Linked DNA regions of Homo sapiens. The protein of the gene in region 1 interacts with the protein of each later gene in a pairwise test. Each region holds a gene or a part of one and is shown in the gene's direction. Other genes may lie near its edges.

Evidence for each region.
Region 2: the proteins of TTC3 (region 1) and ETS2 interact in a two-hybrid assay, tested with the Homo sapiens proteins (one large-scale study listed by BioGRID and IntAct).
Region 3: the proteins of TTC3 (region 1) and SHROOM2 interact in a two-hybrid assay, tested with the Homo sapiens proteins (one large-scale study listed by BioGRID and IntAct).

What each region holds. Positions count from the first base shown.
Region 1 is NC_000021.9:37,163,587-37,167,282, forward strand, and holds part of TTC3 (E3 ubiquitin-protein ligase TTC3), read left to right. Parts: intron 1-464; coding exon 465-629; intron 630-1,963; coding exon 1,964-3,029; intron 3,030-3,696. UniProt on the Homo sapiens protein: E3 ubiquitin-protein ligase which catalyzes the formation of 'Lys-48'-polyubiquitin chains. Mediates the ubiquitination and subsequent degradation of phosphorylated Akt (AKT1, AKT2 and AKT3) in the nucleus.
Region 2 is NC_000021.9:38,815,929-38,819,484, forward strand, and holds part of ETS2 (protein C-ets-2), read left to right. Parts: intron 1-1,079; coding exon 1,080-1,163; intron 1,164-2,496; coding exon 2,497-2,718; intron 2,719-3,556. UniProt on the Homo sapiens protein: Transcription factor activating transcription. Binds specifically the DNA GGAA/T core motif (Ets-binding site or EBS) in gene promoters and stimulates transcription.
Region 3 is NC_000023.11:9,784,747-9,788,542, forward strand, and holds the start of SHROOM2 (protein Shroom2), read left to right. Parts: upstream 1-1,682; 5' UTR 1,683-1,799; coding exon 1,800-1,964; intron 1,965-3,796. UniProt on the Homo sapiens protein: May be involved in endothelial cell morphology changes during cell spreading. In the retinal pigment epithelium, may regulate the biogenesis of melanosomes and promote their association with the apical cell surface by inducing gamma-tubulin redistribution.

The sequences.
Region 1 (3,696 bases):
TGATCTGCCTGCCTTGGCCTCCCAAAGTGCTGGGATTACAGGCGTGAGCCACCACACCTGGCTTAAAAAAAACCTTTTATTAATACCATTTACCAGTCTCAGTCTCACTTTAAGTTAATTTATAGCAGTTATAATACAATCTTCATTTGTCTTTCAGTCATTTAACAAGTTATAATTAATGCAACTTTTTTTAAAAATATGGAGTTTTAAGAATTTTGCTCTTTGGAGCAAGACTAAATAATTGAAAGTGCTTACTTAGATTGTCAGATATGATATTTCTCGCCTATAACTGTGGAAGGGTAACTTTTCTACACTAAGTTCCCTGGTGCTATTTTTTTGCAACATAGAGCTGAGTAATATATTGCCATTATTGTGTTTATTTCAATTAGACATTCTTCTGGTTAAATAATAAACCAAAGGTCTATCATCCACAAAATTGGGTGTTTTTTGTTGTTATTTACCAGCAATCGAAATTCAGATTCTGCAGGCCCATTTGCAGTGCCTGACCATCTTCGGCAAGATGTAGAAGAATTCGAAGCTCTCTATGACCAACACAGTAACGAATATGTTGTCCGCAATAAGAAGCTATGGGACATGAACCCAAAACAAAAATGTTCAACTCTATATGAGTAAGTGGGTTGAAATTTTTACAACCATTATTTTATACTAAGGCTGCCAATTAAAGATCAGAAGTTGTTTAATTTGTGCCTGTTTTTAGAGATTTTGCCACATTTTACACAAAGTTAATTTAGGATTTTTTTTTTTTTTTTGAGACAGAGTCTTGCTGTGTCACACAGGCTGGAGTGCAGTGGTGCAATCTCTGCTCACTACAACCTCTGCCTCCCAGGTTCAGGTGATTGTCATGCGTCAGCCTCCCGAGTAGCTGGGATTACAGGCTTGCACCACCATGCCTGGCTAATTTTTGTATTTTTAGTAGAGAAGGGTTTCACCATGTTGGCCAGGCAGGTCTCCAACTCCTGGCCTCAAGTGATCTGCCTGCCTCAGCCTTCCAAAATGGTGAGATTACAGGCATGAGCCACCTCGCCCCGCCCTGAGGATTTTTAATTATTAAATTTAGAGTCCTAATGATTATTGATTTTGTCAGTTTGAGCTACTAAGTCGATACTGAGTGGGGTGGATAAAACAAGTAAAAAATTCAGGAAAATCTCAGATAGCTTACCATTTTGAGCTTTGTGTTATTAGATAGTGCATGAGGCCTTCCTTTTAAGAAAATAAATCAAGGGCTGAGGTCTGTAATAGAGTATTAATTTAAAAGCCAACTCTTCTCCTGGAAGTCCTGTCAGTAGCATATCCACCATATGGCCCTTTCTTCTGTTTTCCTGTATTGCATCATTCCTATTTAGTTCTGTGCTCTTAGATCCTTCTTCATGGTTTTTCTTTAGAGTTGAAATGCTGAGCAAATCATATTTCCAGAGAACTCTTGGGTGACAGTGTGGAAACAACTGTAAAATTATACTATTATTTCTTAAAGTATGCTAGAATTTGCTTCAGGCATCCAAAAGTAAAGCTAAAGTATGTAGTTTTCAGTATTTACTGTACGCAAATTCAAATAGGATTTGTTTTTGAGATTTGATTTTCTCTTTTTATTTAAAATTCTTATTGGCATTATTATCTTTCCTGAATAAATTTTTTGTTGTTGTTTTTAGAATAAATTATGTAATTACATAGTTGAAAGTTATGAAATAACTTTTTGATTTCCTTTTGCTTTCCCCTGCTCCCAGAAAAGTTTTAAATGATCATTTTCTAGGAGGTAGACAAAATTTTCTTTATAGTATCATTGATTGCAGTTAACCTTATGTTTGTTATATTTGTTGTTGAGGAAAGGTTGAGATCAGTGAAAAGTGAAACAGTGTTTTCCTTTGGGAGAATAAAAGTTTTTTTCAAATAGACATATTCAAGTACTTCCTTATAGTAACTCATGTAAATGTAAATTTTTTCCAAGTTACTTCTCTCAGTTTTTGGAGGAACATGGTCCCTTGGACATGAGTAACAAGATGTTCTCTGCAGAATATGAGTTTTTCCCAGAAGAAACTCGACAGATACTAGAAAAAGCAGGAGGTTTAAAACCTTTTCTCTTGGGATGCCCTCGTTTTGTTGTGATTGACAACTGTATTGCACTGAAGAAGGTTGCATCACGGCTCAAGAAAAAAAGGAAGAAGAAAAACATTAAAACAAAAGTAGAAGAAATTTCAAAAGCAGGGGAGTATGTACGAGTTAAACTACAACTGAATCCAGCTGCTAGGGAATTTAAACCAGATGTAAAGTCTAAACCAGTGTCAGATTCATCTTCAGCACCAGCTTTTGAAAATGTGAAACCCAAACCTGTGTCTGCAAATTCTCCCAAGCCAGCTTGTGAAGATGTGAAGGCCAAACCAGTATCCGACAATTCTTCTAGACAAGTTTCTGAGGATGGGCAACCCAAAGGGGTCTCTTCTAATTCTCCTAAACCAGGCTCTGAGGATGCAAATTACAAGCGAGTCTCCTGTAATTCCCCCAAACCGGTTCTTGAGGATGTGAAACCAACTTATTGGGCTCAATCCCATTTGGTCACAGGATACTGTACGTATCTTCCTTTCCAGAGATTTGATATCACCCAGACACCGCCAGCATACATAAACGTGTTACCAGGTTTGCCCCAGTACACCAGCATATATACACCCTTGGCCAGCCTTTCTCCTGAATATCAGCTACCAAGATCAGTACCAGTGGTGCCGTCTTTTGTAGCCAATGACAGAGCAGATAAAAATGCTGCTGCCTATTTTGAGGGTCATCATTTGAATGCTGAGAATGTTGCTGGTCACCAGATTGCCTCTGAAACACAGATCCTTGAGGGCTCTTTGGGAATATCTGTAAAGTCACACTGCAGCACAGGTGATGCTCATACAGTCCTGAGTGAGTCTAACAGAAATGATGAGCACTGTGGAAATTCTAACAACAAATGTGAAGTAATTCCAGAAAGCACCAGTGCAGTAACAAACATTCCACACGTGCAGATGGTTGCCATACAGGTAAGAGTTAAATAGAAAAGTCTTCTTAATACTGAAGTTAAATTTTCCTTTTCATTTTTCATTGCCGTTATATTTGCAAGAATCCTTAAAGTTGATTGACTTTATAATGATTACTGAAGCTTTTGCCTGAAAATACTTTTAAAATATGAACTCTTTTGTGAGGCATGACAGGTAATCTTCTCAGAAAGAAGCTTGGGTCCAATAAACAATACCCATCTTTGCTACTGAAATTCTACACAGATTGAGAAATAAGACAGCAGGTGGAGCCAAAACGTCATCCTAAGAATTAATAAAGGTGCTGGAGGAGAAGGTGGCTGTTTGTAGGAAAGTTCAAGTGCTAGCTGGAAGTGTAGCCTGCATCACAGTGCCTTACCTGCCAGTTACAGGAGGGCCCACCTGGAGGCCTTCCAGCGTGGGGTGCCTGCCCCATAGGACTTAGCGCATGAAGGAGGAAGGGAAAATGTGCTGGCAGCTCCTCAGAAAGAGAAGGAAAAAGGAAGACTCTGACCTACACAGGCCCAGCTTCTCCTGTCAAACCAGGGGAGGAATGAGAATGTTAAAAAGAGACAGCCAGGTAGAAACAAGAGGGATGTGTATGAGTTCTTTCCTAACAAGGAAGAGATGAAATCAAGATTCTCCTATGGTTGCCTTTATAGGGTATGAATTC
Region 2 (3,556 bases), 1.7 Mb from region 1:
CTGTTGAAAGGAAGGAAGGAAGGAAGGAAGGAAGGAAGGAAGGAAGGAAGGAAGGAAGGAAGGAAGGAAGGAAGGAAGGAAGGAGGGAGGGAGGGAAGGAAGGAAGGAAAGAAAGAGGGAGGGAGGGAGGGGAGGGAGGGAGGGAGGGAGGGAGGGGAGGGAGGGAGGGAGGGAGGGAGGGAAAGAAATAAAATACAGTAGGGATTATTTAGGTTAAAAAAATATAAGAAAATAAGCATGTTTATAGAATTCAGGGAACTAGTCCTCACCTGACTGATTTTAAACACACTGAATTTCAGCATCAACTGTAGACTCAGAATCTCGAAAACACCTAGGATTCAACAGCTAACTTTTTTTAGTTACGGCGTCTGAGGGCCAGGGAAACTCATTTTTAAAGACCCTCATTTCTTCTGAACTTGGACAGGGCTTTTCTACCAAGTTTCTGGTGATCTGTTTATTGGCAAATTGGGCCTGTTTTACCATTCCTCGGGCCTGTGAGTTTGTGTGTATTTGGGTTTCCGGGTGGACGTGCACTTTGTAATATATTCGTAGTAAGTATGCATACACAGTGCACAAACCTTTTCCCTTTCAAAGTTCTTGGGCACATGTGTTCCCCATCCCAGACTCCCACAGCCCTGGAGACTTCCCACACCCTGGGGAAGCGTGCAGGTTTGGAAGCAGTGGAACTGTAAGCTTCACGGGGGCAGACACCATCCATTTTATTAATTTCCTGTATGCAGCCTCTGGTACAGATGGCATTTCATAAATACTTAACTGTTTCTTGAATGCATGAATGAATTCAATACACCATCTGGACCTTTTGCGATAGAAAATTTAGTGTTGCCAATGACATCATTCATTTTGGAAAATTTATTTTAGTAATTGGAAAAATGGGTTGCTTTCTCTCGTTTTTTGAAAAAGACAGGCAGGGACGTGGAGCACCATGAGATTAAATGTGAAGCACTCCGTGCATCTCATCATTCTAAAATTATCATCTCACAGGAATTCAGAAAGTCAATTTGTTCTGTGTAGTTTTCACCTACATCTGCCATCTTACGTCTCCTGTGTCTGCTTTTCAGAAAACCAAGAAAAGACAGAAGATCAATATGAAGAAAATTCACACCTCACCTCCGTTCCTCATTGGATTAACAGCAATACATTAGGTCAGTCCGATTGATTCTGCCCTTAAGAACTTTGTCTTCAGTCTTCCCAGTAGACTTGGAATCTCTCTACTGTAGGCTCCTAAGGGGCCACCTAGACCTGTGTGTCTCTTATGGTGGCCACACGTGGGTGTTGAGCTATAAGCCATTGAAATGTGACTGGTCCACATCGAGATGTGTAGGAAGAGTATAGTCATGCACACCAGATTTGGAAGTCTTAGTATGAAACAGAGAATATAAAATGTCTCCCTGATAATTTTTAATGTATTGATTACATATTGAAATGATAATTGCTATATGAGGCCAAGTAAAATAAGAAAATTAACTTCACCTGTTTCTTTTTGCTTTTTTAATATGGCCACTAGAACTTTCGCAGTTGCTTAAGTGGCTCACACGATCTTCCATAGGTCAGCACTGTTAGTGCTAGTCCAGGCAATTCTTAGAGCAAGGAGCAGAACGAAGTGAGCTGATTACCGCAGTCACCAGTAATGTTGGTTTAGTGTAGCAAACAAGAGGCGGCAGGCACAGAGTGCGTGAAAAGCAATTTGTAAACTGGCTCTGAACTTGGGAGCTTAAAGAGCTGTCATGGAATCTGGGTCCTTTCTTCTGGTTGCTGATACTGGGGAGGGCACAGGGTCTGGCCAGGCCAGCGAGGGAGGGGTCCTCGGAACAGCAGGCTTGGGTGGTGTTGGTCCGGCCCAGTGTTTTCTCTCTGGCCCCAGCTCCACCATTCAGACCCGGTGAAGCCCACCTCTCTGCCCCACTGGGGGCTTCCTGCTCAGGAGGTCTTTCTGAACATGACAGTGGGACACCCTGTGCCTGCCTGAACCTGAATCAGAGTCAGAGAGCTTCCTTCCCTCTCCAGAAAATAAATTATTCTGCAATGAACAGAGACAGGAGCGGTGTGATGAAGGAGCAGAAAGCAGAGTGGGCTGTGCCTCAGCACACAGGGTTCATGGCCTGGTTCTGCCCTTATGAATCACACAGTACATGACACGTCACTTGGTCTGTCTGAGCCTTACTCTCCTCGGAAGCTAAAAGAGCCAGTGAGCCCTGTCTTCCTGAAGGTCCCATGAAAGCACTAGGGTTGTAGAAATAGGAACATTGAGTCCTGCCTGCAGAGGCTGCAGTCATTTTGGCAGAGGGCTGCTGGTTGAGAAGCTGAATGGTTTGAGAAGAAGGCCTGGTGACAGACCCCCACCAAAGCCCGGGTCTCCACTGAGGTTCTGCAGAGGGCTGGAGTGTGCGGAGTGCTCACCTGTCATTTGCTCGTAGGGGTTAGTTACTGGGGTAACACTGACTTTAAGAGCTCTGCCGTCCGATTGTTCTGTTCCAGGTTTTGGCACAGAGCAGGCGCCCTATGGAATGCAGACACAGAATTACCCCAAAGGCGGCCTCCTGGACAGCATGTGTCCGGCCTCCACACCCAGCGTACTCAGCTCTGAGCAGGAGTTTCAGATGTTCCCCAAGTCTCGGCTCAGCTCCGTCAGCGTCACCTACTGCTCTGTCAGTCAGGACTTCCCAGGCAGCAACTTGAATTTGCTCACCAACAATTCTGGTAAGATTGGAAGCATCTTTCAACAAGGCTGTTGCTTTGATTCTGAGAACCCCAGAGCCATAATGAACCTCTTAATAAATACTTCCTGGATTCAGCCATTAGAGAAGGGGGTCAAAGCCCATGTTCTAAGTGGATTTCCAACAAGCATACCCCTAATATGTTTCAGGCACTGGCCCAGGTACTGCAGGCATTGAGTAAACAAAACAGTCCCTGCTCTTACAGCCAGATTTCTCCACACTTTGGGATATTTATGGAGGCGATGCAGGAATGTGACATTTCTTCTTATGGAGATGTAACATAAATACAGTGCACAAGTCTCAGGTCATGTGGCTGGTTGGATTTGTGTATGTATGTATACCCATGTAATAACCATCCAGATGGAGATAGAGAAGTTTCCAGTAGCCTGGAAGATTCCTTCGTACCCCTTCCCATCAATAATGTCCCCCCGACAGAAGGGAACGATTCTGACTTTTATCATTACGGATTAGGTTTTGATTTTCTTGAACTTTACATAGATGGAATCATAAGGCATGTTTTCTTTTGTGTTTGTCTTTTACTCATCATGTCTGGGATTCATGCATGTTGTTGGATGTAGCAGCCATGTGTTCTTTTTCATCGCTGTATAGTATTCCATTATAAGAATTTTATTCATTCTACTGTTGATGGAAGATAGGATTTGTGTAGTATAGTTACCCTAAGGAATAAGCACCTGAGTAGAGAGCATTTTGAGAAGTCTGAGTGGTTCTACACCAGCAGGTGCATGATTGCACTGGTAGTGGTTGGTGATGCTATGGTCGTGCCCAAGACCAACTGTGTCCTGGAGGAATCAAAGTATGTG
Region 3 (3,796 bases), on another chromosome or scaffold:
GAATATGGACATTGATACAATCCACCAAGCCTTTTCAGATTTCCCGTTTCACGTGCATTTAGTTCTGTGCAATTTAGCTTAATCAACTTGGCAGCTCCTGTGACCATCACCACAGTGAAGATACACTCGACTTGATTCTGAGAGGCACATTCCTTAAGCCTTCGTTTAATCTTTGAAAAAGAAAAAATCGCCTCATTCTTCTAACTAAAGGCATTCAGAGACTGTAGTTAGAAGTTAATTATGGGGCAGTCACCACGTGCCCAGCGCCATGACAGGTGCCCAGTGGAGCTGCGACTCTGAATTTAATCGGCTGCATGAGACACCTCCACAGAATGCACCCCTCTCACTTGACCTCTGAAGAAACAGACCAGAGCTGAGATTTCTTGTCCCAGCTTGACAGTGGCAGAACCCAGACCCGGGGACCCTTGACTCTCTGTCCAGTGCTCTCCCGGCCTGTCCTGGATGCGTACTCCAGCATCGTCACCTCTGAAAAGGGCCTGGATGGAGCTGCTTAGAGAAAAGAGGTGTTCACCAGCCTTCAGCTACGTATAGAAACAGCAACGAAAACAGCTTTTTTGCAAAGCATGTAAATACCTATCCATGCAGGTACTTTAGACCAGAGTTTCATGGAAACTGAAACCGAGCAGGAAGAGGTGGCACACATGTTGTCCGCAAACTTTCACCAATCCCAGACCTCCACCTCCCCTTTTCGGGGATGTAAACCTGGGAAACTTGAAGACCTTGTGGTCCAATCCTAGGCGAGTGGGGACAGCATCTAGACGCAACGGCTTTCTGCGCGGTGGCTGTGGGAGGCCTCTGCGGGAAGGTGGGAAGGCCCTCGTGGAAACGGGGCACGGTCCTTCTGCGCCCGCCTTCCAAGCCCCTCCAGAGGCCGGACCCGCGCCCGGCTCAGGCTGCTGGGGGGCGCCCTTCCCGGCTCTCTAAGTCCAGAGTGTGAGTGCGCGCAGGGCCGCGCGGGACGGGCGGTCCCTCTGCCCCGGGGCAGCGGCCACAGCGCGGGCACCAGGGCCTCCCGCGGCGCTTCCGCTCTCACCTGCGCGGCAGCCCGCGGTGCGCGAGAACAAAGTGTGGGCGCCGGCGGGCCGCGCGCCCCGAGACGGAGGAGGCCGGAGACTCCCGCCACGCCACCCCGCGCCCATCTCACCTGCCGCCTCACCTGCCCGGTCCTGGCCTCCAACCGGCGGGCGGGGGCGCCCAGAGCTTCGAAGCACTGCAGAGCTCTGGCGCGGGAGGAAAGGCCCGACCTGGCGCCGGGGCCTCCGCCCCCGTCCTCGCCCGCGCTGGCTCCGCCAGCCCCGGGGCGCGCGCTCCTCGACCCCGACCCCGAACCCGCTGAACGGCGCGCGCGCCTGAGCGCCCCTCCCGGCCCGCTCCCCTCCACCGGGCGAGAGAACCGGGGCGCGCCCCTCTCCAGCTCTCCCCGGTACGAGCGGCCGCGTGGGCCCCTGAGCGCGCACCTGACCCCGTCCCTCACCCTTCGGGCCGCGGGCTGGACCTCTGGACGCGCTCCCCGTGACCGGCCCCGCGGTACGAGCTCCCGAACGCGCCCGCCCCGCCCCCCGTCGGCCCCGCCCCCTCCCCGCCAGCCCCGGCCCCGGCCCCGGCCCCGGCCCCGCCCCCTCCCCGCCAGCCCTCCGGGCTCCCTCCGCCGCCGGGCCGGCACTTTCTTTCCAAGTTACGGCGCAAGTTCTGCGGCGCTCGGAGCCTCCCTTGCGATCCCACGGCCGGGACTGCCCGGAGTGCATGGGCGCGGGCCAGGGACGCTGAGCGGTCGCGCCATGGAGGGCGCCGAGCCCCGCGCGCGGCCCGAGCGCCTGGCCGAGGCCGAGACGCGGGCGGCGGACGGCGGGCGCCTGGTGGAGGTGCAGCTGAGCGGCGGCGCCCCGTGGGGCTTCACCCTGAAGGGCGGCCGCGAGCACGGCGAGCCGCTGGTCATCACCAAGGTAAGGCGGCCGCGGGGCGCGGGCGCTGACAGCCGGGAGCTGGCCGCCCTGCGGGGCGCGTCGAGGTAGGGGCGCGGGAGGGGCGGTAGGCTCGCGCCCCCGGGTCTGGCGCGCGCGTCTGCTGGGGTCACCTGCCGGGCCTGGGCGCCGGGACCGGCGTGGGCGTGTGATCCTGGCGGTTCCCCGCGCCTCGCAGAGTTTAAATGGCTCCTGCCCGGAGTCCCTTTCCCCTCCCCCTCCCTCCTCCGGGCAGGGGCCTGGCCGGGTCCTCTGGCGCTCCCGGGCCCGCCAGTGGCGGCCTGCACCTGCGGGGCTGCCTGGAGGCCAGCGAAGGAACGTGTCCCCGAGCCGTCCCCACCTATGTTTGCCTCTCTGGGGTCCCTGGTTCGGCACCCCTTGGACCCGTGCCTGTGATCACTACGAAATCCAGAGTAGCAGCTGTCGCCAGCGCAACTTCTCGATTCCCTTCAGCCCATCAATGTTTACTGACTTTCGGCTTCCAGTCCCAGATCCACTGCGCACTGGATACCTGCGCAAACTTAGAGAAACCTGAAAGCCTGCTTCCTAAGAGCAGGACCCGAGTTCTAATAATAATAAAGAAATTCCAGATGTATCTCATCAGGAATGTTGTGTGTGTGTGTGTGGTTTGCTTTAGAACATTGAATTTTATTGTCTCAAAACAAAATCCATCTGGAAACTTACCAGTTGAACCTGTATGAACTTGTAAAAGCAAACACATAAACAACAGTCCAGTCACCCTGTGTTCTAGTTAAAAGTGTGTAGTGGTCATTTTCTCTGGGAAGGGTTGAGTCGGACCTTTCGTGTGGACGAAGTTCCTTTTAAAATGTAAAGATTCTTGGCGACTAGAAGCGTTTGAAGATAATTTACTGGTTTTCTCGGCTTTCCTGCCTCTCCACAGCAGGAAGAAATTAAGTGATTCCTAACCCGCCGCACTGGTAATCAGTTTGGGAAGTGGGATGGCTTTGTTGTTCAAATAGCAAATGAGACACCAGCGTCTTCCATTCTATATTTTCTGTCGCTTTTATGATTACAAAACTTTGTGGAGGGATTTGGAGAAGCCTTGTTTAGCTTTGCACTAAATTTTTGTTGAACTCAGGAAAGAGGTTGCCATTGTTATAAATTTGACCAATGTGTAATCTTTTATCACACTGGCTTCTTTGGAAACATGGTGGACAGTCATAAAGTGTGTATACTCTGCCCAGCCAGAACACTCCTCTTTTTTTTTTCTTTTATTTCTTTTCTTTTCTTTCTTTCTTTCTTCTTTTTTTTTTTTGAGACAGGGTCTTGTTCTGTCAGCCTCCTGAGTAGCTGGGACCACAGATGTGCGCCACCATGCCTGGTTAATTTTTTAAAATTTTTTGTAGAAACGGGGAGTTTCACCATTTTGCCCAGGCTGGTCTCGAACTCCTCTGCCTCCCAAAGTCCTGGCATTACAGGCATGAGCCACTGCGCTTGGCTCAGAATGTGGATTAATCCAAGCTTTGAATCTTCCTCTCCCAAAAGCTACTGAAAAGTCACTGGGGCTCATTAAAAAATAGCTCTTCTAATCGTTTTTTTTTTTCCACTTGTAATTAAATAGTTACATATTAGAGCCCTGGAATACTGTACAACTCACTTGCTATTTAGCAGACTCTGATTTGGGGATAGCTTGCATTAAGGTAAGAGCGCACCTTCTCTTTATGATAATGAGGGTATCATTTGAAAGCCTCATGGGAGTGCGTGTAGTAGAACTGGGAGGGGTGTCAAGAACAAGGCTGGTTCGGTCCTGGTCTTCAGATGGAATTTTATCAGCCCATTTTATAGATGAAACA